Homo sapiens: one gene and its partners. The protein of the gene in region 1 purifies or fractionates together with the protein of each later gene. This does not show direct contact. Each region holds a gene or a part of one and is shown on either strand. Other genes may lie near its edges. The genes, in order: BCL10, CAMK2G, PPP2CA, BIRC2, QKI, CSNK1A1 and CASP8.

Region 1 (3,500 bases):
AGGCCACGCTGGGTAGGTTGCTTGAGTCCAGGAGTTCAAGACCAGCCTGGCCAACATGGCAAAACACCGTCTCTACAAAAATAATACAAAAATTAGTGAGGCATGGTGGCACACACTTGTAGTCTCAGCTATATTACTTGAGAGGCTGAGGTGAGAGGATCACGTAAGCATGGGAGGCAGAAGTTGCAGTGAGCCTAGAATGCGCCACTGCACTCCAGCCTGGGCGATAGAGCAAGACTGTCTCAAAAAAAAAAAAAAAAAAAAAAGAAAAAAGGAAAAAATACCTCATCAAATTACATGTAATAACTGAGGTTTAGGCCAAGATATTTTTCTTTAGGAATGAAAATGATTAAGCCAAGAATGTGAAAATCCTAACAAAGTAGTATAATTAGTAAGGTTAATTAGAAATGAATTTTGGCAAACCGAGATCTTAGGTGGCTCACACTCCATCAAGTGTTCCTCCAGTATCAAAAAGAGGCTGTTTACATGCCTATACGACAATGGAGTGGAAAAGAGATTTTTATTTTTCTATATTGGCAGTTTTCCCATCAGTGACCGGTTTTATTACTGAACAGGAACAGCTTAATGCTGAAAATTTGCTGCTGAATGACTGGCAAAGACTATTAGACTCTTGAAAATTTCTAGCACAAATGCACTGAGGAAAAAACGTTCTTCCTAGTAAGGGTCTATTCTCAAATAGAGATATATTCCCTATTAAAATCAGTCTTAAAATAGAAAATATTTAAAAAAGTACTGAAAGACCTTAAAAAGGAAAAAAAGAAATTACTAAAAAGTACATGATCAACATGATTTACAGTTAGCTATCCTAGAAGTATGCTTTTTTAATTCTAAAAATCCTATTTACAAAGTATGCTTACATTGCATTTTAAAAGACATGCATCAAATGTAAACAAATGATTACAGCCATTTTATAAAAAGTCATATTCTTTAAAACATTTTTTGTCATCATTAAAAATTAAAAGGCAATAAAGTGTCATTGTCGTGAAACAGTACGTGATCTTAAGGGAAGAAACATCTCACTAGAGTTTGCACAAGTTCCTTCTTCTTCTAACTGTAGATCTGGTGGCAAAGGAGGAGCCCCTGGGTCCCCAGGTCTGGGAAGTGTAGTTGAAGAGAAGATGGTATTTTCAGTTCTGCCTACTTCTAGAACAGGCAAATTCAGAGAAGAATTAGTAGAAAAAAAGGGCGTCGTGCTGGATTCTCCTTCTGGATGGTACATGACAGTGGATGCCCTCAGTTTTTCAGAGAAATTACTCTCATCTGAATTTGATCTGGAGAGGTTGTTCGTGGCTCCATCTGGAAAAGGTTCACAACTGCTACATTTTAGTCCTACAATAAAATTATTCAGATGTAAATGAAAAAGTAACTAAAAAAATGGAGTCACTGTCCATCTTGTGACTTGTTAAAGATTACAAGCTAGTTACCCCACAATCAAAATTTAAATAGCAACTTGTAATTTCCGTCATAATCTATTTCAAATCTAATTTGCTTTTCTCAACAACCATGAAGTATACTATTATTTGCATTTTCTATATAACAAAATAGTCTCGTGGAAGTTAAACGACATGCTGTAATTCTCATTTAAGGTACAGCGTACATATAAACTTAACCACCTAAAATTTTTTATAAAATAAGAAATAGCTTTCACAATAAATATTCTTTAGTATTCTGGTACAAAAAATATTAGCTAATAAAAAAATGTAAACGGCAGATGCTAAAATTCTATCTGTTGATCAATGACAATGGCTAATTCTTGAATAATAGGATATTAGAACTAAAAGGAATTTTAGAGGTCACCTAGGATAGTCTCTTATTATTAAAGACGAGAAAAAAGGGCGGGGCATGGTGGCTCACGCCTGTAATCCCAGCACTTTGGGAGGCCGAAGTGGGCAGATCATGAGGTCAGGAGTTTGAGATCAGCCTGGCCAACATGGCGAAACCCCATCTCTACTAAAAATACAGAAATTAGCCAGGCGTGGTGGCAGGTGCCTGCAATCGCAGCTACTCAGGAGGCTGAAGTAGGAGAATCGCTTGAACCTGGGAGGCAGAGGTTGCAGTGAGCTGAGATCATGCCATTGCACTCCAGCCTGGGTGACAAGAGCAAGACTCCGTCTCAAAAAAAAAAAAAAAAAAAGAGAAAAAAAAGGCACAGGACAGTTAAGTCATGTCCAACATTCCAGGACTACTTTGTGGGAAAGTGAGAACTACAATTCAATAGATAATGTCCTGTTTCTCAACCTCACAGTTTACTCAAATGACAGTGGTTGTTCCCATTAGCTGTGGTACGAATGTATCCGCCAAAAGTTCACATGTTGGAAACTTGGTTGCCACTGCAGCAGTGTTAGGAGCTGAGGCCTTTGGGAGGCAACAGGGTCATGAGGGCTCTGCCCTGGACTAATGCCATTATCACGGGAATGGGTTAGTTATTTTGGGAGTTCGACTCCTTTTTCTTCTCTTTCACACTCTTGCCCTCCCTTGCTCTTCCATCTTCTGCCCTTCCACCATGCATGACCCTTGCCAGATGCTGGCGCCATGGTCTTGGACTTAACCAGCCTCCAGAACTGTAAGAAATGAATACATTTCTTTTCTTTAAAAGTTACCCAGTCTCAGGTATTGCTACAGCAGAAAACAACTTAGATACCATCAAAGAATTTTATGATATCCAAAGGGTATAGTTAACCATTATCCAGAGGATTGAAAGAATAAACACAAACACAATTTACCCTTCTGTTAGGCTTAGCAAATATTCAACCTACAGGCACAGAAACCCTGAGTTGACAATTTTTAGGCAAAACCTGCATAGTCTATAAAGGGCACTTACATGTCACTTCTTCCACTAGTTTTTCAACCTCACAGTACAGTCAGCATGTCTATTCCATGCTATACAAACTACTTTCTTAGATATGGCTCAAAAGGGAAAACTTGTAATGTGTCCCAGCAAGGGGACACTTATAGACTATGAGTTCCTTAAGGGCAGAGCCCTAAATTATTCTTTTCTGTATCCCTAATGCCTAGAAGAGCTGTAGAACATCACATGCACATTTATGTGCTCTGGAGAGAGACAGTGAGGAACAGAGGCAGGAGGGGGTTGGGGATTTAAATTGTGTAGGCAATTCCACACAATATTCCAATCAGTGAGTGTATATTCTGGAGTGAGAGTGAAATGGGACAGGTGAATCTGCTATTCTCTTAATCTGTTTCCATGCTTTCACATCTTGCCAGACTAGTTTAAAGTCATGAATATTTTATGCAACGTGATTCCTATAAACATATGCCAATTACTTCATCTTGTGATCAACTGGTGATCATAAGAAAAACTAGCAGAGTTGGACTTTTACAATACTTTGCCTAAATACTGTTCTTTATGTGTGATGTACAGTATTTTCAGAGCTTACTCTTGAATAGATTAACTTTACATTCTACTGACTTTAGAAACAAATCCTTATGTATGCAGGGATTTCATAATAGTTTTCTATAAA
Region 2 (3,500 bases), on another chromosome or scaffold:
GGTGACATTTGATTAGGACCCAAAGTAGGTGAGACAGTGAGCCAGGCACATTATCTTGGGAAAGAGGTTCCTCACTTCTTTTGTTTGTTTTTTTTGCTTTTTTTTGAGATGGAGTCTTACTCTGTTGCCCAGGCTGGAGTGCAGTGGCATGATCTCGGCTCACTGCAAGCTCCGCCTCCCAGGTTCACGCCCTTCTCCTGCCTCAGCCTCCCGAGTAGCTGGGACTGCAGGCGCCCATCACCATGCCCGGCTAATTTTTTTGTATTTTTCAGTAGAGACGGGGTTTCACTGTGTTAGCCAGGATGGTCTCGATCTCCTGACCTTATGATCCGCCTGCCTCGGCCTCCCAAAGTGCTGGGATTACAGGCGTGAGCCACGGCACCCGGCCAAGAGGTTCCTCACTTCTAAAATAGAGACAGCAAGATCTGAGGTTTAACTGAGGTGGTACAGGTCAAGAGTTTTGCATAAGGTCTGGCATATAGCTCCTTTCCAAGGGCCCAGTGAGAAGCTTGACAGGGTCTCCTGGGCTGGGCTTGTGGCCACAGCTATCACCAGAGACACTGTGAATGGGACCCACTGTCCCCTCAGCCCAGGCAGATGCAGGGTCTGCAACACAGCAACTAAGCCCTCCTGCCTGGCTTCTGGGCTCCCCACATGGTCCTCCATTGCAGTCCTGGAGGTGGAGTGTCCCTCCCTGTTTTGGCGGGGCCCACCTGTGTCTACAGTCTGCAGGTGATGGGCAGCAACAGGGGCTCCTCAGAGAGAGGGGAACGCCGCAGGAAGTGCCACTGTCCGCTTCCCTCCTCTTCCTCGCAGCCGTGGCACCCTGCCATCCACAAGCTCTCCTCAATGAACAGAGCAGTTTCTACCTGCCCCGCTCTCCCCGTTCCTGCTGCCACATACTGCCCGGCCACCACCCAGCCTCTCCAGCTGTTGTCTCCTGTCTCTTCCCCTGACACTTCCTGTCCTGTAGTCACATCCAGGGCTGGCCCACGGCTGCAAAAAAGCAGAGGGTCCATCCCAGCAGCAGTGGCAGCAGAGGGGTTCCAGGATGGAGTAGTGGTTTCTAGAGCATCTTTCCCAAAAGCAAGGGCATCCCAGCTGGACGCAGCATCTCCAACCCCAAAAAGGGCGAGGCCACTGAATGGGCTTGGTCCACAGTGGGAGGGCCCTGGCTCGGCATCTCAAGGTGCTGCAAAGGTGTCTCCCCTTGAGACACCCCTCCTTCCAGTAACCACTAGGGAGAGGCTCAGACCTTCCAAGGTGGACCCTCCTCCACGCACCTTTCTACCAGGCTCATCCCCGCCCCTCCCACAGCCCAGCCCCCCCCTTCCTGTTTGACAACTGCCACTTCCCGCTTTTGCACAGGGCCACTTCCTGCCTGCCTGTGTGCTACTGCCATGGAGAGACCCACCCCTGCCGGCCTTCAGCCCAGCTCCAACCACAGCCCTCTGCAGGTTTTCCCCATCATTAGCAGAGGTGGCAACAGGAGCAGAAAGCAGAAGCAGCTCCAGCCTTTCCCCAGCAGCCTGCCTAGACCAGAGTGGTCTGAGCCCAGGCCAGAGCCAGGCCCTGGGAAACAAGGATCCTAGAAACCCAACCTCTCCCGCCTTCTGCCCAAGTGCTTCAGGACTTGGTCCAAGGTGCCACGATTTCACAGGAAGGGCAGCAAGAAGTGACCAGATGCACCAGGGGAGGCAGAAAAGAGGAAGCAGATAGGGAGGTGATAGCTTGCAGCCAAGGGGTGCACCAAGCCTGCCCCTGAACCACCTCCCCCTCTGGCCTGAAGACAGAAGCCTACTCCAATGCCCTTTCCTTCCTCTGCCAGGTCAGGGGGCCAGGGAGGGCTGGCCACAGATTCTCCATGGCCCTCTCAGGGATGGGCCTGCTTGACTTAGTGACATTTTCCTAAAAAAAAAACACAAATGCCAGCACTAGCTTCAAATAAGATCCTGCTGCCACGTAAACATACAATCCTCTGTACGTGGGAAAGGATGCACATTCCTACTCTGACTGAGGACTCTCCCAAGTTCCAATCTCAAAGACATTCTTAACTTTGTAAAGGGTATTTTGCAGGTCTGTGCCTATGACCCTAAACATGGATGTGAGAAACTTCCTGCAACCCCACTGATTTCAGGGCTCCATGGGAGGCGGCCTCACTTGCTGCCCTCCTGAGTGCCTTTCATCTTCTTCCCAAGCAGCAGAGGCCGCCGTCTGGTCCCCTTGGCACTCTGAGGAGCAGAAACAAGGACATCGCAGGGATTTGATGTCATAATCCACCTTCCCCAGCTGCTTATGCACAGCCCTGGGCCTGGGACACTGACCAGTGGGAATCCCAAGCCACGATCCCACCGACCTCACCCTGACACTGTGATGCCACATCCCTTCCTCTTTGAATCTCACTCTAAAGATGCAAAGAGTCTCCAATTAAAAGCAAAGTCCATCCGACACACAAGAGCAGGACCATGGTTTCTAATGCCCTCACACATGTACACCTGGTGACTAGCTGGGGGCTGTGATACAGAGGGACGGGGCCTGAAATGGTCCCATGTGAACCCCCAAGGCTCTGTGCATGTACCCAGCATCCTCCCCTTATCTTCAACCCTCACTCAAGCAGTTTTAACTTGGTGACACAAAGACCTGAGCCCCACTTTGGCCTCTGGATCTCAAGGCAAGGGAAGCGAGAGGCTCCAAGAAATGCCCTATAGCGAAAAGGCCCTCAATCAGCTTTGACAGAGAAAATCCCCAAGGGGTCACTAGCAAGCCCCAAGAAGGCAAGGCTCTGCCTGGGGGCACTCTGGCTGCTCTCAAGGGCCAGAAAAGGGTCAGCCGTCTGTTCTCCATGCCCCCCGGCAGGGCTCCCGGTGCCTGCAGCCTTTGCCCACTGTTTTGGTGACATTTCCTTCATGGTAACCAGCCCCAAGTAAAACATCCCAGGAAGCAGCCCCTAAAAATAGCTCCTCCCAGGGCAGCAGCAAGCAGGGGGGAAGGGAAAGAAAGGGAGGAGAAAAGAGGGGAGCAGATGGGAAGCTGCGGCTGCTGCTGATAGGGCCCAGGAAGCGGAGATGGTGTTGGGGAGGAGTGGCTGGAAATCTCCCCACCGCACAGCCCAGAGAGGTGGGTACAGACGGGAATGGGGCCTCAGCCAGCAACGAGGAGGGATTTGCTCCACCAGGCTTGGAGCTTGGGGCCTAGATGGAGAGGTGTGAGGTGATATGCCAAGATTCATCACAGGAACAAAGTATCCAGAACCTGTGTTTTAAAGAAAGGCGCCAAGGAGTGGGTGGAGGCCACACGGCCTGAGGACGCTGGGTCTGAGCCCTGGCAAAGTCATGGGCACCTGCAGCACAAAACCAAAAAAGAAAAAAAAGACCCCAGACAAAGCTTTTGTGCTTTGATTTCCCCAGCGGTCCTGCGGCAGATCTGTCTGGCCATGGGTAGGTGACAAAGGGGCTCTGCAGAGAGGCATTCAAGAGGTGCAAAGTGCCCATCTCCTCCTG
Region 3 (3,500 bases), on another chromosome or scaffold:
ACACTTTTTTGAGACGAAGTCTCGCTCTGTTGCCCAGGCTGGAACGCAGTGGCGCGATCTTGGCTCACTGCAACCTCTGCCTCCCGGATTCATGCCATTCTCCTGCCTCAGCCTCCTGAGTAGCTGGGATTACAGGCAGGCGCCACCATGCTGGGCTAATTTTTGTATTTTTAGTAGAGAAGGGGTTTCACCATGTTGGTCAGGCTTGTCTCGAACTCCTGATCTCAGGTGATCCACCCGAGCCTTCCAAAGTACTGGGATTACAGGCATGAGCCACCGCGCCTGGCCCCCTTAAACTCTTAAACCTCACATTTAAACTATGTATTCAGGCTGGGCACTGTATCTTATACTTGTAACCCCAACACTCTAGGAGGCCAAGGTGAAAGGATCACTTCAGCCTAGGAGTTCGAGACAAGACTGGGCAATATAGTGACACCCTCTCTCTCAAAATAAATAAACCAAAACCCTACATATTCAGTAATGCAAGAAAATGTTCAGGTAGAATTACTTACAAAGAGTATTTTAGAGTATCGTCAAGTTCCATGATTGCAGCTTGGTTACCACAACGATAACAATAGTTTGGAGCACTGAAAATCGTTACTACATTCCGGTCATGGCACCAGTTATATCCCTGCAAGGAAAAGGAGACAAAAATCTTACTTTACTCCCTCAATTCAACTAAATGTTACTTCACTCAAGAGAGAAAAAAATCTCTACTCATTCCCACCCCTGCCAAAGGGGCTTAAGAAATGTTAATGCTTTTTTTCTGGATGACTTAATAATCTCCTGTACTTTATACAACCTGTAAGGTACACATGTATTTATTTTCCCCCTAATTACAAAACTTGTTTTTTTTTTAGTACTTTAAAAAAAAAAAGGCTTTAACAAACAGCAGCAACCACCAAAGAATGAAATACTTCTCATGTATCTGCCTTGCTGTAAATGACAATGTCTCATTAGCCTCTTCTCTTGCAGTGGCCTTAAAACATGATTTAAGAATAAGTATTTAAGTGGCCATTCCCTAGAGAAGTAGATACTTAATCCTGGAGACCAGAACCTTACCAATTTTGTCAGTCACAGGTAAAGGCCTGTTAAGTTGGTCACTGCCCAGGAACAAATGCAATATGCCTCTAGGATCTCCAGCCTCATTTCCTCAAAGTCCATCCACCTGAATGCATGAGCTACTTTTGTTACTTTTTGTTTAGTATTGTTCACAATTTCTTTACCTTTAGCAAAGTCAGATTTTATTGATAACCACAGAGTTGTACTAGTATTAATCTAATTAGGACCTTATTTTAAAAATATTCTAATCAGTGTGCCATGTCAAGAACCTTTGCCTCTTTCCCTTCTTTCAAATCACCTGTAATCCTAGCATCCAAAGGACCACTTAAAACATTTTCGTGTATTTCTTTCCAGTCTCTCCTACATACATACATTAAATATACGAAATAACATTGGGATCATAAAATATCATACATGCACACCAACTCCCTATATCTTACTTTCCCACTCTTAAATCTCAAGTACTTCCTAGTCATTCAGATTTCTCTGAAAACATGTTAATGGATTCATTGTAATCAAAAGCTTGAGCTTTTAATTCTAGTAGTGTGCATCTACTGAAAAGGCTCAGGCTATAATGATAAACTCATCAGAAGGAATAGATGGAATTTCTCACAAATGTCATTAATTTAAAACTCCCTAATATCTTCTTTCCTTAAGTTTACTAAAAAAACAAGTCATATTTCAGAGAACACAGCATACCTCCATCACTAGCTGGTGAGCTCTAGACACCAACGTGAGGCCATTGGCATGATTAAATGTCTCAGAAATATCTTGCCCAAAGGTGTAACCAGCTCCTCGAGGAGATATACCCCAACCACCACGGTCATCTGGATCTGACCACAGCAAGTCACACATTGGACCCTAAAAAATAACTTCAAGTTATAAAATGCCTTTTACAAACATGGTTAACACATTATTTGAGTAATTCATCAGAAGCAGCACCCTAAGCCACCCTTTTTGAGTGATGTTTGTGGACAATGCTAATAGACTGTGCAGTTGAAGTCAAACATCTGCATCAAATAAGATGTATTTTCCAGCAGACTTTATGAGACACAGCTGACATCCATGGGACCCAGCAGCAACATGCCCTAATTAATCTGCCTATATTATGCAAATTTCAGAGTCTAAGACAGACAACCCAGGTCCTAATAAGCCCAGCTTCACAGCTGTTGTGATCTTGGCAGGTTTCTTAATGTCAGCTTCTTTTGAACAACAGGGCAGACAAGAGTGCTCACACCTCAAGTTGTTTTTGAGAATTATATGAGAGAATACATCTAATGAACTTACAATTAAACTTCTCCACTCCCTAATAAGTTTTCTGAAAGAATTTTATCAAATAAAAGTCATACCTCATGGGGAACTTCTTGTAGGCGATCAAGTGCTCTGATATGATCCAGTGTATCTATAGATGGCGAGAGACCACCATGTAGACAGAAGATCTGAAAAGAGTGGTTTAAAAGGTTAACCTCACCTAAAAAATTTGTAAACATTCTTGGCTGGGCACAGTGGCTCATGCCTGTAACCCCAGCACTTTGGGAAGCTGAGGCAGGAGGGCTGCTTGAGGCCAGGAGTTTGAGACCAACCTGAGCAACACAGCAAGACCCTGTGTCTCTACAAAAATTTTAAAAAATGAGCTGGGCACCCCCATCACTTGGCCCCTCTGGTGTTTCTGTGCTCTGCCTGAATGAGACTTGACTTTGCAGGGTTCATCTTTGCTCCAGCCCACTCTGAACTATTGAGTACACTCCTGTTCTTCCTAATAGACCATCGCTGTCACAACCAGACTCCACTTCAAACAGCTCCTTTGAGAAAACTTCTTGGATATCACTCCTGCCCTTTGCCAGAGACTAGTATCTTCATACTCATAAAATTTTATTGTAAGTTCTTTTGTGTGCACATCTACCTAGGCCAATAATTAGCTCCTTACATCTCCCAGACTTGTCCAAAAACAGTCTGAGAGGGTAAATGGGCTACATCACCCACCCCTGTGATCCCACCATACAGTTCAGTGCCTGATATAAAGAATAATGCACTTAAAAAAGTTGGACACATTTGTCAAATTAAATTTTTTTTAAGTTTGAATGAATGCTATCAATATCTATTAAAAAATATCCCCAAAGGGGTGTTAAGAGTGGAAAGAGTCATAAGCACCTGAACACTAAAGAAAGCAGATTCTCTGAAATAATCAGCAATGAGTTTTAGATCCACATACCTGCCCATCCACCAAGGCAGTGAGAGGAAGATAGTCAAAAAGATCTGTAAAATATTTCCAAACATTTGCATTTCCATATTTTCTTAAACATTCATCATAGAAACCATAAACTTGTGTGATCTGTCTGCTCTCATGATTCCCTCGAAGAATGGTGATGCGTTCACGGTAACGAACCTAAAACAATAAAATGCAAAACATAAACAACTAGCTCTTTCAAAAACCAATG
Region 4 (3,500 bases), on another chromosome or scaffold:
CAAGAAACAGAAAGAAAAAAAAAAAAAGAAACGTGACATTAGCAAAGAAACTCAGTAATTTTCCAGTAATCACCCACAAAGAAATGGAGATCTATGAACTAACAGATAAAGAATTCAAAATAATTGTTTCAAGCAAACTCAGTGAGCTACAAAAGAACACAGATAATGAAATAAAAAAATATATACAAACAAATGAGAAATTCAACACAGAGATAGGAATAATAAAAAGAAACAAATTCGGGAGCTGAAGAACATAACAACAAAAAATGCAATAGAGAGCATCAATAGCAGACCTGATCAAGCAGAAGAACCTGTGAACTCAAAGGCAGATCATGTGAAATTATCTAGTCAGAGGAGAAAAAAAGAAAAAAAAAAGAATAGTGGAGAAAGCCTACCTGAATTATAGGACACCATCAAGCAAAACAATATTTGCATTTTAAGAATTCAAGGCCAGGCACGATGGCTCACACCTGTAATCCAGCACTTTGGGAGGTTGAGGCGGGTGGATCACATGAAGTCAGGGGTTCAAGACCAGCCTGGCCAACATGGCAAAACCCCGTCTCTACTAAAAATACAAAAATTAGCTGGGCATGGTGGTGCACACCTGTAGTCCCAGCTACGTGGGAGGCTGAGGCAGGAGAATCACTTGAACCTGGGAGGTGGAGGTTGCAGTGAGCTGAGATCATGCCACTGCACTCCAGCCTGGGTGACAGAACAAGACACCATCAAAAAAAAAAACCCAAGAAAATGAAAAACAAACCCGAGAATTCAAGAAGGAAAAGAGAGAAAGGACAGAAAGCTGATTTAAAAAAAAAATGCTGAAAACTTCATAAATCTAGGGAAAGATATCCAGGTACAGGAAGTTCATAGGACCCCATAAAGATTCAACCCAAAGAAGACTTCACTGACACACATTATAATGAACTGGCAAAAATAGAAGATGAAAGAGAATTTTAAAACTGTAACAGAAAAGAAACTCATCTTCTACAAGAGAAACCCTATAAGACCACAAGTGGATTTCTCTGCAAAAACCTTGTAGGCCAGGAGAGAGTTGGATGATATATTCAAAGTGCTGAAAGACAAAACTACCAGACAAGAATATGTATCCCAGCAAAGCTGTCCTTCAGAAATGAAAGAGATATAAACAGTCCCAGACAAACAAAAGCTGAGGGAGTTTATCACCACTGGACGCGCCTTACAAGAAACGCTGAAGAGTTCTCCAAGCTGAAATGAAAGGACACTAATTAGCAACATGGAAACATATGAAAGTATGAAACTCACTGTTAAGATAAATATATAATCAAATTAATAATATACTAAATTTGTAATGGTCATGTGTAAATTACTTAATTCTAAAATACAGGTTTTTAAAAAAAAGTATTAAAAATAACTATAGCTTCAATAATTTTTTCATGAATACACAATATAAAATGCAAATAATGACATCAAAAACATAAAATATGTGCAGGAGGGTCTGAGTAACAGTACAGTTTTTTAATGCAATTGAAATTAAGTTGTTAGTGCTTGAAACAGACTACTATAACTATAAGATGTTCTATGTAAACCTCATGATAGCCACAAAGTAGAAACCAATAGTAGATGCACAAAAGATATAAAGGAATCAAAGCATACCACCACAGAAAATCATCTAAACACAAGGGAAGACAGCAAGAGAGGAAGAAACAAATAATCTGCCAAACAATCAGAAAACAATTACAAAATGACAGAAGTCTTTACCCATCAATAGTTACCTTGAATGTAAATGGGCCAAATTCTCCTATCAAAAGATAAAGAGCAGCTGAATGGATAAAGAAAACAAGATTCAGCTACAGGTTGTCTACAAGAGACTCAATTCACCTTTAAGCACATGCATGGGTATAGGAAAAAAGATATTCCATGCAAATGGAAACCAAAAGAGAGCAGAGGAAGCTAAAGTTTTATCAGATAGGGCAGACTTTACATCAAAAACTGTAAAAAGAGTCAGAGAAAGTAATTATATAATGAGAAAGGGGCCAATTCCACAAGAGGATACAGTATCTGTAAATATATATATGTACCCAACATCAGACCACCTAAATAAACAGAGAAAATATTAACAGATCTGAAGACATTAATAGATAGTAACACAATAATACTAGAAGACTTCAAAAATCCTACTTTCAATAATGGATGGGTCATCCAGACAGAAAATCAGTAAGGAAATATTGGACTTCAACTATACACTGGATCTAATGGATCTAACATACAGGTTGAATATTCCTTATCTGAAATGCTTGGGACTAGAAGTGTTTTGAATTTTACATTTTTTAGATTTGGGAATACCTGCCTTATGTTTACCAGCTGAGCATCCCTAATCCAAAAATGCAAAACCAAAAATGTTCCAAAGAGCATTTCCTTTCAGCATCATGTTGGTACTCAAAAAGTTTTAAATTTTGGAACATTTTGGATTTTGGATTTTTGGATTGGGGATACTCAACCTTTATACAGAACATTCCATCAAACAGCAGATAATACACATTCTTCTTAAGCACACAAGAAAAATTATCCAGCGTAGATCATGCAGCAGGTCACAAAACAAGACTCAACAAACTGAGGAAGACTGAAATCCTATCAAGTATCTTTTCAGACCACAATGGTATGTAACCAGAAATCAATAACAGAATGAAAGTTGGAAAGCTGACAACTATGTGGAAATTGAACAAAATACTCCTGAATAATCAATGGGTCAAAGAAGAAATCAAAAAGAAAATTTTAAAAAATCACAAGAAATATTAAAATTGAAATGCGACATAGCAAAATGTATAGAACAAATGCAGTTCTAAAAGGAAAGTTTATAGCAATAATCGCCTATATTTAAAAAAAATCTTAAATAAACACCGTAATTTTACATCTAAAGGAACTAGAAAAAGTTAGCAGAAGGAAATAACAAAATCTCATGAAATAGAGACTACAAAAACAATAGAAAAGACCACTAAAACTAAGAGCTGGATTTTGAAAAGATAAGTAAAATCAACAAAGCTTTAGTTTGACTAGTAAAAAGGAAGACGAAAATAAATAAAATCAAAACCAAGAGATGTTACCATTGATAACACAGAAACGCAAATGACCATAAGAGACTACCATGAACAATTATTCACCAAAAAACTGTATAACCTAGAAGAAATGGATGCATTCCTAGAAACTTGTAATTTATCAAGACTAAAATAAAGAAGAAATAGAAGATCTGAAAAGACTTATAACTAGTAAGGAGATTGAATCAGTAGTCATAACTCTTCTGACAAAGAAAAAGCCCAGGAACAGATGACCTCATAGCACAGTTCTATCAAGAAGAAGAAAGAAGAAGAAAGGAAGAGGAGGAGAAGAAGGAAGAGGAGGAGGAGGAGGAAAGAAGGAGGAAGAAGAAAGAAAAGGGAGGAGGAGGAAGAAGGAAGAAGAGGGAGGGAAGAGGGAGTAAGGAGGGAGGAGGGGGGAATACTTCCAAACTCATTTTATGAAGCCAA
Region 5 (3,500 bases), on another chromosome or scaffold:
CAAGATTCAATCATTTATTTTTCAATTTACTATGTTATTGCTATGTGCTGGGCTCTATGCTAAACACTAGAAATAAAAATGGTAAGCAAGACAAGAGATTACAGGTGACTGGGTAAATAGAAAATTTAAAAGACGCTAACAATATCCAGTTGATCCTCAAACAACAAGGGAGGGCTCGGTTGTCAGGGACACAGACTGCATCAAAGATCCTTGTGTAACTTTCAACTCTCCCAAAATGTGACGAATAGCCCACTGTCGTCTGGAAGCCTGACAGTTGATCAACATATATTTTGTATGTTTTATATGTTATATACCGTATTCTTACAATAAAGTAAGCTACAGAAAAGAAAATGTTATTAAAGCAGTAAAAGTCGATGTTAAATAACTTTTTCTGATCATGACACTAATTGCCCAGTATACTTTCGAAAATCTCCTTTTCTATACAGTTTTTCAATACCACACAATTAAGGAAAATGAGAAAGATTCCATGGTTTAATAGTACACAAATATAGATTTTAGTTTATATTTAACCTGATCATTAAAAAAAATAAAATCTACCAACAGAATTTACATAAAACTCTTTTATTCCAAGGAATTAATTTCATCAAGTTAATGGGAAATGTTTATGATTTGTGAGTTTACTTGTTGAATAAACTATCAGGGTAATAAAGAATAGGCTATCTGGGAAATAAAAAGCAGCAGGAACCATAACTCATTTATGTAAATGCCAATGCTTTTTGTTGGACACAATACTAACAGTATTCCTAGTTTTTTCTTTTCTTTTTTGAGACAGGGTCTCACTCTGTCACCCAGGCTGGAGTATAGTGGCGCAATCTCAGCTCACTGCAACCTCTGCCTCCCAGGCTCAGGCGATTCTCATGCCTCAGCCTCCCAAGTAGCTGGGATTACAGGTGCCTGCCATCACGCCCGACTTATTTTTTGTATTTTTAGTAGAGATGGGGTTTCACCATGTTGGCCAGGCTGGGCTCAAACTCCTGACCTCAGGTGATCCAACCGCCTCAGCCTCCCAAAGTGCTGGGATTACAGGCATGAGCCACCGCACCCAGCCCTAGTTTTTCCAATAGCAAATTAGGGTCCACATTTCCATATAGTTTTACTAATATAAGAAAAAAAAATTAATGGCCCAGAAAACCAGTAATTTATTTTTCATTTCCCGTTAAAAAAAAAAAAATTATACTCTGGGAGTAGTACAATTATTATTTCTAAAAATATTAAAGGGTTAAGAAACAATAAGGAGCCAACCCAAGGAAGGGGGGCAGAGGGAAGAGATGGGGGAAGAGATGGGGAAAGAGAAACCGGGAAGGAAGGAGAACTGATAACACAAAAGCATCTGGATAATTTCTTACGCGACGTCACCCTCCAAAACCCCTTTTAATGTCTATCTAAGGACCCCTAAATACGAACTTTATGTTTTTATTATGTTAGAAGTATCAGTCAGGTGTTTTTAATTTTATGCTTAAATAAAATTTCTAACAACCAATAACCTATTCCTTATAAACATTACGATAATTTAAAATAAACTGACAAAAAAGGACGAGGCCCAAATCTAAGGTCTGGAAATTATTACTTACTGCAGGTACCAATAATTTCTTCACTTCTTCAACTGCTCTCTTCAATTTGATTTCTGCTCTGTTCTGAGCATCTTCCACAGTGATTAGTACATGTAAATCTTCATTTAGATGCTCCCAATTGGGCTTGCCTCTATTTTGCTCCTCCTAAAAAATTTACAGAGTACATGATTAAAATTATTCTCTTTAAAGAGAGAGCACATCTTTCATAATACTAACCTGTTGTCAATTATTTCAGCTATGTTTGCATTATTTTGCTATGATGGCACAAGTCTTTGAATTATTTTTCTGGGTCCTCAAAGTTTGATTGAATGTGAGACTACTGGGTCAAATGATAATTAATCCAACAAGTATTTACTGAGCACTTACTATCTACCAGGCACAGAACCAGATGCTAAAGATCAGCCCCAAGCGTGCTCCTATGCACTAGAAGCATACATCATCATCATGTATGTAGTATCATACAACATACATCTGATACTGTCCTTACATTACCATGAAAAACACTTTGAGAAACATGTCATTATTTCTGCATTTTACTTATAAGTAAACAGAAGGTCATCAAGGTTAAGGGGGTCACCTCTCAATGTCACACAGCTAACAGGCTGTCAATTTAGGAACTGAATCAAAGTTTTCATTCTCTAATTCAGTGATCTTTCCACTTCATTACAACTGCTTTTAATGACATTGGTTGTATTCAGCATTAGAAAAGGTATTTTGCATATAGATGTTATTGTGTAAGATGACTACCACTTGTTTTAAGTATTTCATGCGGTAATTATGAAAATAGTTTTATCTACATTCCCATCAGACCATACCTTAAAATTAACTGTAAGGCTACTCTTTAATTATATCAAGTCATAAATACTAGTTTCATAGAGAATATCTATATTTCATTTCCTTAATGTCTTCTAGTAAGAAATATCCCCATGTTGAAAACCTGGTTAAGCTACAGGGAGGTTAAGTAGAGTTGGCATAATTTCAGAATCGCTGTTTTAAGTTTTAGAGAAAGTGTTTTTAAATAAAATAAGAATATATAAGTAGTATATAAATGGTAAATATAAATGCACCTGGCACACAGCAAGGTACCACAGACAAACAATAAATATCTGCTGTTTTTGGACCTTTATTTTAGAAGTTACTATTTACCTAATTGTTAGATTCCAGTAAAAGAAAATAAAGCAGGCATAATAAAACTGCTTTCTGCAACAATTCACATGATTGAGCTTAGCCAATAAGGCTAAAAATAAATTTTAACAGTAAATGCTTCTGCTTTATTTTTAATCAACACATCTTTAGGATGAAAATGCATCCACATATTGTAAGGGGATACAGGGAAAAAAAAAATCAGACACAATCCTATGCTGGGCCATCTATGTATTTCCAAAGAGTGAACTCTGAGTCAGCACAGCATTTTACAGGGGTACCATCTGTCCGACACTGTGTGAACCACCAGCTCAGAATATCTGACTGTTTCAACATAAGGTCACATTACATTCTTTTTGATGATGTCATATCTTTACAAAGCTAGGTTGTTAGCGGTTGCTGTAATAAAAATCAAGAACATACAAAAATCAATGTGGAACAAGAAAAGAGGGTGGCAGTACAAAAATCTGATTCCAAAGTTTGAGAATTTGAACAGCACCCAAGAAAATACAAATGCTATTAGTAAAAATGTGGTTATTTACAAATAAAATGTATAGTCTGTTTCAAAGTTGTTTGTAGAGTAAATATTTAATAAACAGAACTCTGAAATATTTCTTTTTGACTAGGGTACACCATGCAAACTAAGTGGGAAACCAAGGAGTCAATGAATCAAGAAACTGGAAACCTCAGGGTTATCTGTATGGCAAGAAATAAAATATGTATTAATATCTCTAACTGTGGCAAGAAAAATTAGTTTTGTTATCC
Region 6 (3,500 bases), on another chromosome or scaffold:
ACAAAAATATGAAAAGATTAGTGAAAAGAAGATGTCCACGCCTGTTGAAGTTTTATGTAAGGTAAGTATGCATGATGAATATTAAAAAAATATAAATGAAGCCAGGCACAATGGCTCACACCTGTAATCCCAGCACTTTGGGAGGCCAAGGCAGTAGGTCACATGAGCCCAGGAGTTCAAGACCAGCCTGGGCAACATAGGGAAACCCCATTTCTACCTTAATAGATAAATGATCCGGCTGGGCACAGTGGCTCAAGCCTGCAATCCCAGCACTTTAGAAGGCCGAGGTGGGCGGATCACTTGAGCCCAGAAGTTCCACAAGACCAGCCTGGGCAACATGGTGAAATACCTTATCTACCAAAAATACAAAAATTAGCTGGGTGCAGTGATACACGTCTGTGGTCCCAGCTACTCAGGAGCCTGAGGCAGGAGGATCACTTGAGCCCGGGAGGCTCCAATTGCAGTGGTGAATCTTGGCTGTCTTGCAAGGATCTGAGATTGTGCCACTGCACTCCAGCCTAGGTAACAGAGTAAGACTCTGTCTCAAATGAGTGAATGAATGAATGATCCAGGAAGAAAAAGGAACATTTTATTTGCCAGCTCTGGAACTTGTAACATTGAATTAGGTAGCTATTCACCATTTTAAATTTACATTTTTATTATTCTAAATATCTTTAACAAGGACTTTTAACATAGGGGTCTTTTTAAATAAGTGTTTTGCTAGGCACAGTGGCTCACAGTTGAGGAGCCACTTGGTAGGCTGAAGGAGGGTGGATCGCTTGAGCCCGGGAGTTCCAGACCAGTCTAGGCAACATGGTGAAACCCCATCGCTACAAAAAATGCAAAAATTAGCCTGGCATGGTGACGCATGCCTGTAATCTCAGCTTCTTGGGGATGCTGGGGCAGGATGCTTGAGCCCAGGAGGTCGAGGCTGCAGTGAGCCAAGATTGCACCACTGCAGTCCAGCTTGGGTGACAGAGTGAGACCCTGTCTCAACAACAACAAAAATAAGTAAAATAATAAAAAATAAGTTAAATAAACGTTTTAAGTAAGTAAAATAAGTGTTTTATGTTTCTGGTTTGTTAGGGCTCTCTAATCTGTTGAAAACTAGGGGTAAATAAACAGGGCAGGTAAACATTTTCAATAGAACCTCATTAATCTATAAGAAAAAGTAAGAAATATTCTCCTTACCCTAAACTAGTGCTGGAAAAGAAAGGTTATCAACAATTAGTACATTAAGGAACAGGGAAACATGCAGACAGATTGGAGCAATCCAAAATAGCAGCTGTCCAACAATACAGGAATACAGAAGACAGTTTGAATCACACTCATTTTTTCTGAAATTTTCAACTTCATAGAAAGGCAATTGAGTTTAGAATAGAGAGGTATTTGTGTCATGATGAATAACCATGATCTCATCCATAAAAAGAAGGCCATATGGTCTTTCAGACAAGAAAGAATTGTATACCTGAAATTAAGTACAAAGCAGTATACAAATAAATAGTTGAGGGAAGAAATCAGTGAGAGTTAAAATAGTAATTATAAAGTGGTGAGATTGTTTTCAGTCTCATTGTCATACTGTTTACCATTAACACGGGCCATAAATGTATATAAATGTTGAGTTTTAGAAAGATGTATAATATGTATTATTTTACATCTTTTAACATATGTATATGTTTCAAGTGGTCACCCAATTTATATCGGTGCAATCAATAAAAAATGTTGCAAGCATTTCCATTCTATCCTTCCTAACTCCAGGACATGAGAAATTTCTCATAAGGTTGTAGAAAGAGATTGTAACTTTAACTCTACAATCATAAGGTTGTAGAAAGAGACTGCCTCCTTTAACTTTACCACTCTCCACATTGGCATTTACTCTAGGAGAGGAGATATAGAGGTTTGTGCTCTTTTAATATTTTGTATTTCCACATTGCTGATTGGGGAAATCCTTTTGGTGACTGATACCTAGAGCCTTGAAAATGTTTATACATTGTTGAGAATCTTTCCTAAGGAGCTAAATGGAAAAATTCTATGCCCACAGATGTACTTAGCAGTATTATTAATAATAGAGAAAAATTAGAATACATCCAAATGTTCAATTATAAAGAACAAGTTAATGATGTATATACTAGGTAGAATATCATGCAACCATTTAGAAACTTCTGAAGGCTGGGCATGGTGGCTCACACCTGTAATCCCAGCACTGTGGGAGACCAAGGAGGCCAAGGGGGGCAGATCTCTTGAGCTCGGGAATTTGAGACCATCCTTGGCAATCTGACAAAACCCTGTCTCTACTAAAAAATACAAAAAATTAGCTGGGCGTGGTAGCTCGTGTCTGTAGTCCCAGCTACTCAGGAAGCTGAGGTTGGAGGATCGCTTGAAGCCTGGGAGGTGGAGGTTGCAGTAAGCTGAGATTACACTACTGCACTCCAGCCTGGGAGACAGATTGAGACCCTGTCTTTAAAAAAAAAAAAAGTTCACGAAGAGGCGCGACTTTGATAAAATGACAGGTTTTAACAAGTGGGCTATGTAAGTTATTTAAGAACATAGTACTGTATAGGAAAAGCACTATATGGGAAGAACATATGTATTTCTTCTACTAATATTGTACATAATAGGGTAGGTAGGGTCATGAAATTTTATTTAAATTTATGAGGAGACCAAGCCATCATTTTAGCTCTCATATCTTCCTATGAAATGGTAAAATATCCCGCCCAAAAATATCTTTTTGCTTATACTTAAATGCATTTATTTTTCTATCTTGAAATGTTTGTTTTTAACTTTGTTTTAACCCTTGAACCTATAGGGGTTTCCTGCAGAATTTGCGATGTACTTAAACTATTGTCGTGGGCTACGCTTTGAGGAAGCCCCAGATTACATGTATCTGAGGCAGCTATTCCGCATTCTTTTCAGGTCAGTTTTTAAGGTATTTTAAGATTATAAACTCTGTGAGGGAAATTGGTTAAATTTACCTAACAAATTCATTCTGATAAATACTAAAGTAAAGCAGATCTAGCTAACATGAATAAAAGGTTTCAGAAACTGATTTATTTGGGACTAATTTGGCATTTTTCTATTTGTAGTGTAAATAGGTGATTTTAGTTTGGAGTGGATAGAGAGTTGAATCATACTCAAAGTAGAATGTAACTTTTCCAGAATAGTTATAATTCATATTAGATATAAGTGGCTGTCAGTGCCTTCTGGAACTCTCCAACTTTGTACAGTACCAAATAAAAAGCAATTAAAATATCACATAGTCATGGAGTCTGATCAAGTGGTAGCAGTCCTAAACTAGGGTAGGGTTCCTTAGGCACAACCCAGAACTGGTCTTGAAAAAGGGGGGGGAATAGATTACATGTGGCTCAAACTCTTAGTTGGAAGAGAGTAAGAATTGAGGTAATCCGCCCAGGTACGGTGGCTCACGCCTGTAATCCCAGCACTTTGGGAGGCCGAGGCGGGCAGATCGCTTGAGGTCAGGAGTTAGAGACCAGCCTGCCCGA
Region 7 (3,500 bases), on another chromosome or scaffold:
ATCACTTGGGAGGCTTTGGGAAGATGTCCCACCGGAGCCAGATTAAGAAATTTAGGGGCCTTATATATAATTCTATAGAAATGCTAAGACCATAAAATAAAAATTTATTTTTCAAAGTGAAACATTACTTAGAGGTATGCTGAAGTTATAATAGAGTTTTTCTAAGTGTTCTCATTTTTTTCCTCTCTTATCTTGATGCCTCTCGATATCCAGATTGTGTGCTTACTTTGCCCATCCATTGAGTAAAGCATCATGGCTTCCCACCCTGAAATCCCCCTCCCACCTGCTTGCGGATGGCTATGAAAATTTTCAATGAGATTTAAGGGTTTTCTGCCACACTTAAAGACTCGAATGACTAAGTTCTTTACGGAGCTGTAAGCCGCTGGCCTGGCACATACAGCTAGGCAGTCTCCACCGAGGCTGCCCAGTTCCTGTGAGCCCGGCTGTATGACAGTTCTAAGCTTCTATAGGAAGACAGTGGCACGTTGGGTCATCCTGCCAAAGGCTGTAAAACTCAGCTTCTCCCCACCCTAGGGAGAGTGGGTAACCAAAGGTGTGAGAGAGAAACCCCATTCAGTTACAACTTCATGATGCTGTGACAAGACTTTAAAAACAGAAACACATTGTCACTTTCTCTCTTTCAACATCTCCTATTATCGGACACTACTTAAAGCAATTTTAGCTTTGCTTTCAGGAAACTTCTACTGAAGTCTTCGTTCTGGGCCCATTTCATTGTCTCTGTTTGCTTGTTGATAACTATGGCATGTGAGATGGAAAGGGTTCACAACCAGGGCTGACAGCTGCTGTCCTCTGATGGCTCAGCCCATGAATGCTCTGGTCTTTCTATTCTCAGAGACTATTTTTTGTTTTGAGGCTTGACTATTTTTTGTTTTGTTTTGTTTTGTTTTTGAGACGGAGTCTCGCTTCATCACCCAGGCTAGAGTGCAGTGGCATGATCTCGGCTCACTGCAACATCTACCTCCAGGGTTCAAGTGATTCTTCTGCCTCAGCCTCCTGAGTAGCTGGGATTACAGGTGTGTGCCACCATGCCCAGCTAATTTTGTATTTTTAGTAGGACGGAGTTCCACCATGTTGGCCAGGCTGGTCTCGAACTCCTGACCTTAAGTTATCCACCAGCCTTGACCTCTCAAAGTGCTGGGATTATAGGTGTGAGCCACCATGCCCAGCCAAGGCTTGACCATTTTGATTTTAAGTGAAAAAAGAGATATTCTGGGCCGGGTGAGGTGGCTCACGCCTGTAATCCCAGCACTTTGGGATGCTGAGGAGAGCTGATCACCTGAGGTCAGGAGTTCAAGACTAGCCTGGCCAACATGGTGAAACCTCATCTCTACTAAAAATACAAAAATTAGCTGGGTGTGGCGGCTCACGCCTGTAATCCCAGCTACTTGGGAGGCTGAGGCAGGAGAATTGCTTGAACCCAGGAGGTGGAGGTTGCAGTAAGCTGAGATTATGCCATTGCACTCCAGCCTGGGCAACAAGAGTGAAACTCTGTCTCAAAAAAAAAAAGAAAGAGATATTCTGGGTATATAAGTTTCCTAGGGCTGCTGTAACAAAGTAACACAAACTAGCAGGTTTAAAACAGTTTTTAAAATGTGTTTTCACAGTTCTGGAGGCCTGAGTCAGAAGTCAAGATGCCAACAGTGTTGGTTCCCTTTTAAGAGGCTCCGAGGAATAATCTTTTTCATGCCTTTCCCTGCTTCGGGTGGGTGGAGGAATCCTCAGTGCTCCTTGTCTTGTAGATGAGGCACAGCAGTCTCTGCCTATGTTCCCTTCTCTGTGTCTAAATCTCCCTCTTATGAGACAGTCACTGGATTAGGAATTAGGGCCCACCTAATCCAGTATGGCCTCATCTTTGTGTGTGTGTGTGTGTGTGTGTGTGTGTGTGTGTGTGTGTGTGTGTGAGACAGTGTCTCACTACATCGCCCAAGCTGGAGTGCAGTGGCATGATCTCGGCTCAGTGCAACCTCCACCTCCTGGGTTCAAGCAATCCTCCCACCTCAGCCTCCCAAGTAGCTGGGACTACAGGCACCCGCCACCATGTCTGGCTAATTTTTGTATTTTTTTGTAGAGATGGAGTTTCAAAATGTTGCCCAGGCTAGTCTTGAACTCCTGGGCTCATGCAATCTGCCCACCTCAGCCTCCCAAGTTCTGGGATTACGGGCATGAGCCACTGCGCCTGGCCAGCATGACCTCATCTTAATGAGATTTTATCTGCAAACGTCCTGGGTCCACATAAGGTCGCATTCTCATATTCCAGATAGACATGAATTTTGGGGAAGAGGGGAGAACACTATTCAACCAGTACACTAGATAGCTTTGGTTTACTAGCATTGTGAAGTCTTTATAAGGCACTTATTCATTAAGGCGCCAGTTAGTCCTAAAAACCCACAGCCCCAGAACAAGGAAAGCCGAGGGGGGTCTCATCTTGTGCCCACCATCTTGGTCCTTTGAAGGTTCCACTTCTGCCGCATGAGCTGGGCTGAAGCAAACAGCCAGTGCCAGACACAGTCTGTACCTTTCTGGCGGAGGGTCGATCATCTATTAATAAGGCAGGATCTCTCTTAAAATCTTTAATGTATTGGCTTAGAGATAAAAGGGTCCGGGCAATCCTGACTTACTGCTTGTTCATTATCATTGAATACTAGCCAGAAGCTAATAAATATGCTAGGGTGACCACTTACCATTATAAGAAAACACTAGACATTTTATTTTCCAGTTATAATTGCTACCTATAAAATAAAGATCTTATAAACTATTCAGGTTCATTACTAAATGGTGATGGTACAAGAAAGCCTATAGGCTTCAATAATGAGGAAAGCAAAAGGGTAAATACCTTGTAATAAAGGTGAAAGAGTCAGAGTAGCTTTGGATTAGATCCAATTTTGGCCAAACTGAAAGCTTTAGATAAACACTTCTAGGGTAGAGAGTCCATGAGAAGGGGGATAAGGCAGATGGTAATACTGAGTAATTTCTGTTTCTACGCCATTTTTATTTTCAGAATTTTACTTTTCTAATTAAATTTTAAAGTCAACGTGTTTTTGTATTAAAATTATTTTCCTTTACACCATAGTATTGAAAGGTTTGCTGACTTCTAAAACATTCCTTTGTTCACCTATTCGACAAGCATATTCCAAGAGCCTAAATGTGCCAATCACATAAATGTGATAGGCATAGATTAGGAAATAGTAACACCTATCACTCATTGAGCACTTAGTGTGTTGCCAAAGACTGATTTAAGTACTTCACATAAACTTATTTGTGTAACCCTCGAAACCTTCCTATGATGTGGTTACGGATAATTATCTTCAGTCTATGGACGAGGAAAAAATGTGTAACATGTCTAAAGTTAACACTGCTCAAAGATAGTGGAACCAAGGCTCCAACACCAATAGCCTGGGTCCGCTGAGCTCAATCATTGCACCTCACAACCCTCTGGGTTTATGAAAATAAAAAGGGTACGGACCTGGCCACTAGGGGAC

Evidence for each region.
Region 2: the proteins of BCL10 (region 1) and CAMK2G purify together in Homo sapiens (affinity purification with western blotting, with the first as the bait; one study listed by BioGRID). This does not show direct contact.
Region 3: the proteins of BCL10 (region 1) and PPP2CA purify together in Homo sapiens (affinity purification with western blotting, with the first as the bait; one study listed by BioGRID). This does not show direct contact.
Region 4: the proteins of BCL10 (region 1) and BIRC2 purify together in Homo sapiens (affinity purification with western blotting; 3 studies listed by BioGRID and IntAct, with this or other methods). This does not show direct contact.
Region 5: the proteins of BCL10 (region 1) and QKI purify together in Homo sapiens (co-immunoprecipitation; one study listed by IntAct). This does not show direct contact.
Region 6: the proteins of BCL10 (region 1) and CSNK1A1 purify together in Homo sapiens (affinity purification with western blotting; 4 studies listed by BioGRID and IntAct, with this or other methods). This does not show direct contact.
Region 7: the proteins of BCL10 (region 1) and CASP8 purify together in Homo sapiens (co-immunoprecipitation; one study listed by IntAct). This does not show direct contact.

What each region holds. Positions count from the first base shown.
Region 1 is NC_000001.11:85,266,633-85,270,132, forward strand, and holds part of BCL10 (B-cell lymphoma/leukemia 10), read right to left. Parts: intron 1,351-3,500; coding exon 995-1,350; 3' UTR 1-994. UniProt on the Homo sapiens protein: Plays a key role in both adaptive and innate immune signaling by bridging CARD domain-containing proteins to immune activation.
Region 2 is NC_000010.11:73,864,556-73,868,055, forward strand, and holds part of CAMK2G (calcium/calmodulin-dependent protein kinase type II subunit gamma), read right to left. Parts: intron 1-3,500.
Region 3 is NC_000005.10:134,198,574-134,202,073, forward strand, and holds part of PPP2CA (serine/threonine-protein phosphatase 2A catalytic subunit alpha isoform), read right to left. Parts: intron 3,449-3,500; coding exon 3,275-3,448; intron 2,502-3,274; coding exon 2,412-2,501; intron 1,935-2,411; exon of another isoform or gene 1,924-1,934; coding exon 1,762-1,923; intron 632-1,761; coding exon 513-631; intron 1-512. UniProt on the Homo sapiens protein: Catalytic subunit of protein phosphatase 2A (PP2A), a serine/threonine phosphatase involved in the regulation of a wide variety of enzymes, signal transduction pathways, and cellular events.
Region 4 is NC_000011.10:102,357,214-102,360,713, reverse strand, and holds part of BIRC2 (baculoviral IAP repeat-containing protein 2), read right to left. Parts: intron 1-3,500. UniProt on the Homo sapiens protein: Multi-functional protein which regulates not only caspases and apoptosis, but also modulates inflammatory signaling and immunity, mitogenic kinase signaling, and cell proliferation, as well as cell invasion and metastasis.
Region 5 is NC_000006.12:163,533,218-163,536,717, reverse strand, and holds part of QKI (KH domain-containing RNA-binding protein QKI), read right to left. Parts: intron 1,737-3,500; coding exon 1,593-1,736; intron 1-1,592. UniProt on the Homo sapiens protein: RNA reader protein, which recognizes and binds specific RNAs, thereby regulating RNA metabolic processes, such as pre-mRNA splicing, circular RNA (circRNA) formation, mRNA export, mRNA stability and/or translation.
Region 6 is NC_000005.10:149,506,440-149,509,939, reverse strand, and holds part of CSNK1A1 (casein kinase I isoform alpha), read left to right. Parts: coding exon 1-61; intron 62-2,806; coding exon 2,807-2,913; intron 2,914-3,500.
Region 7 is NC_000002.12:201,267,036-201,270,535, forward strand, and holds part of CASP8 (caspase-8 isoform 2 precursor), read left to right. Parts: intron 1-2,474; coding exon of another isoform or gene 2,475-2,570; intron 2,571-3,500. UniProt on the Homo sapiens protein: Thiol protease that plays a key role in programmed cell death by acting as a molecular switch for apoptosis, necroptosis and pyroptosis, and is required to prevent tissue damage during embryonic development and adulthood.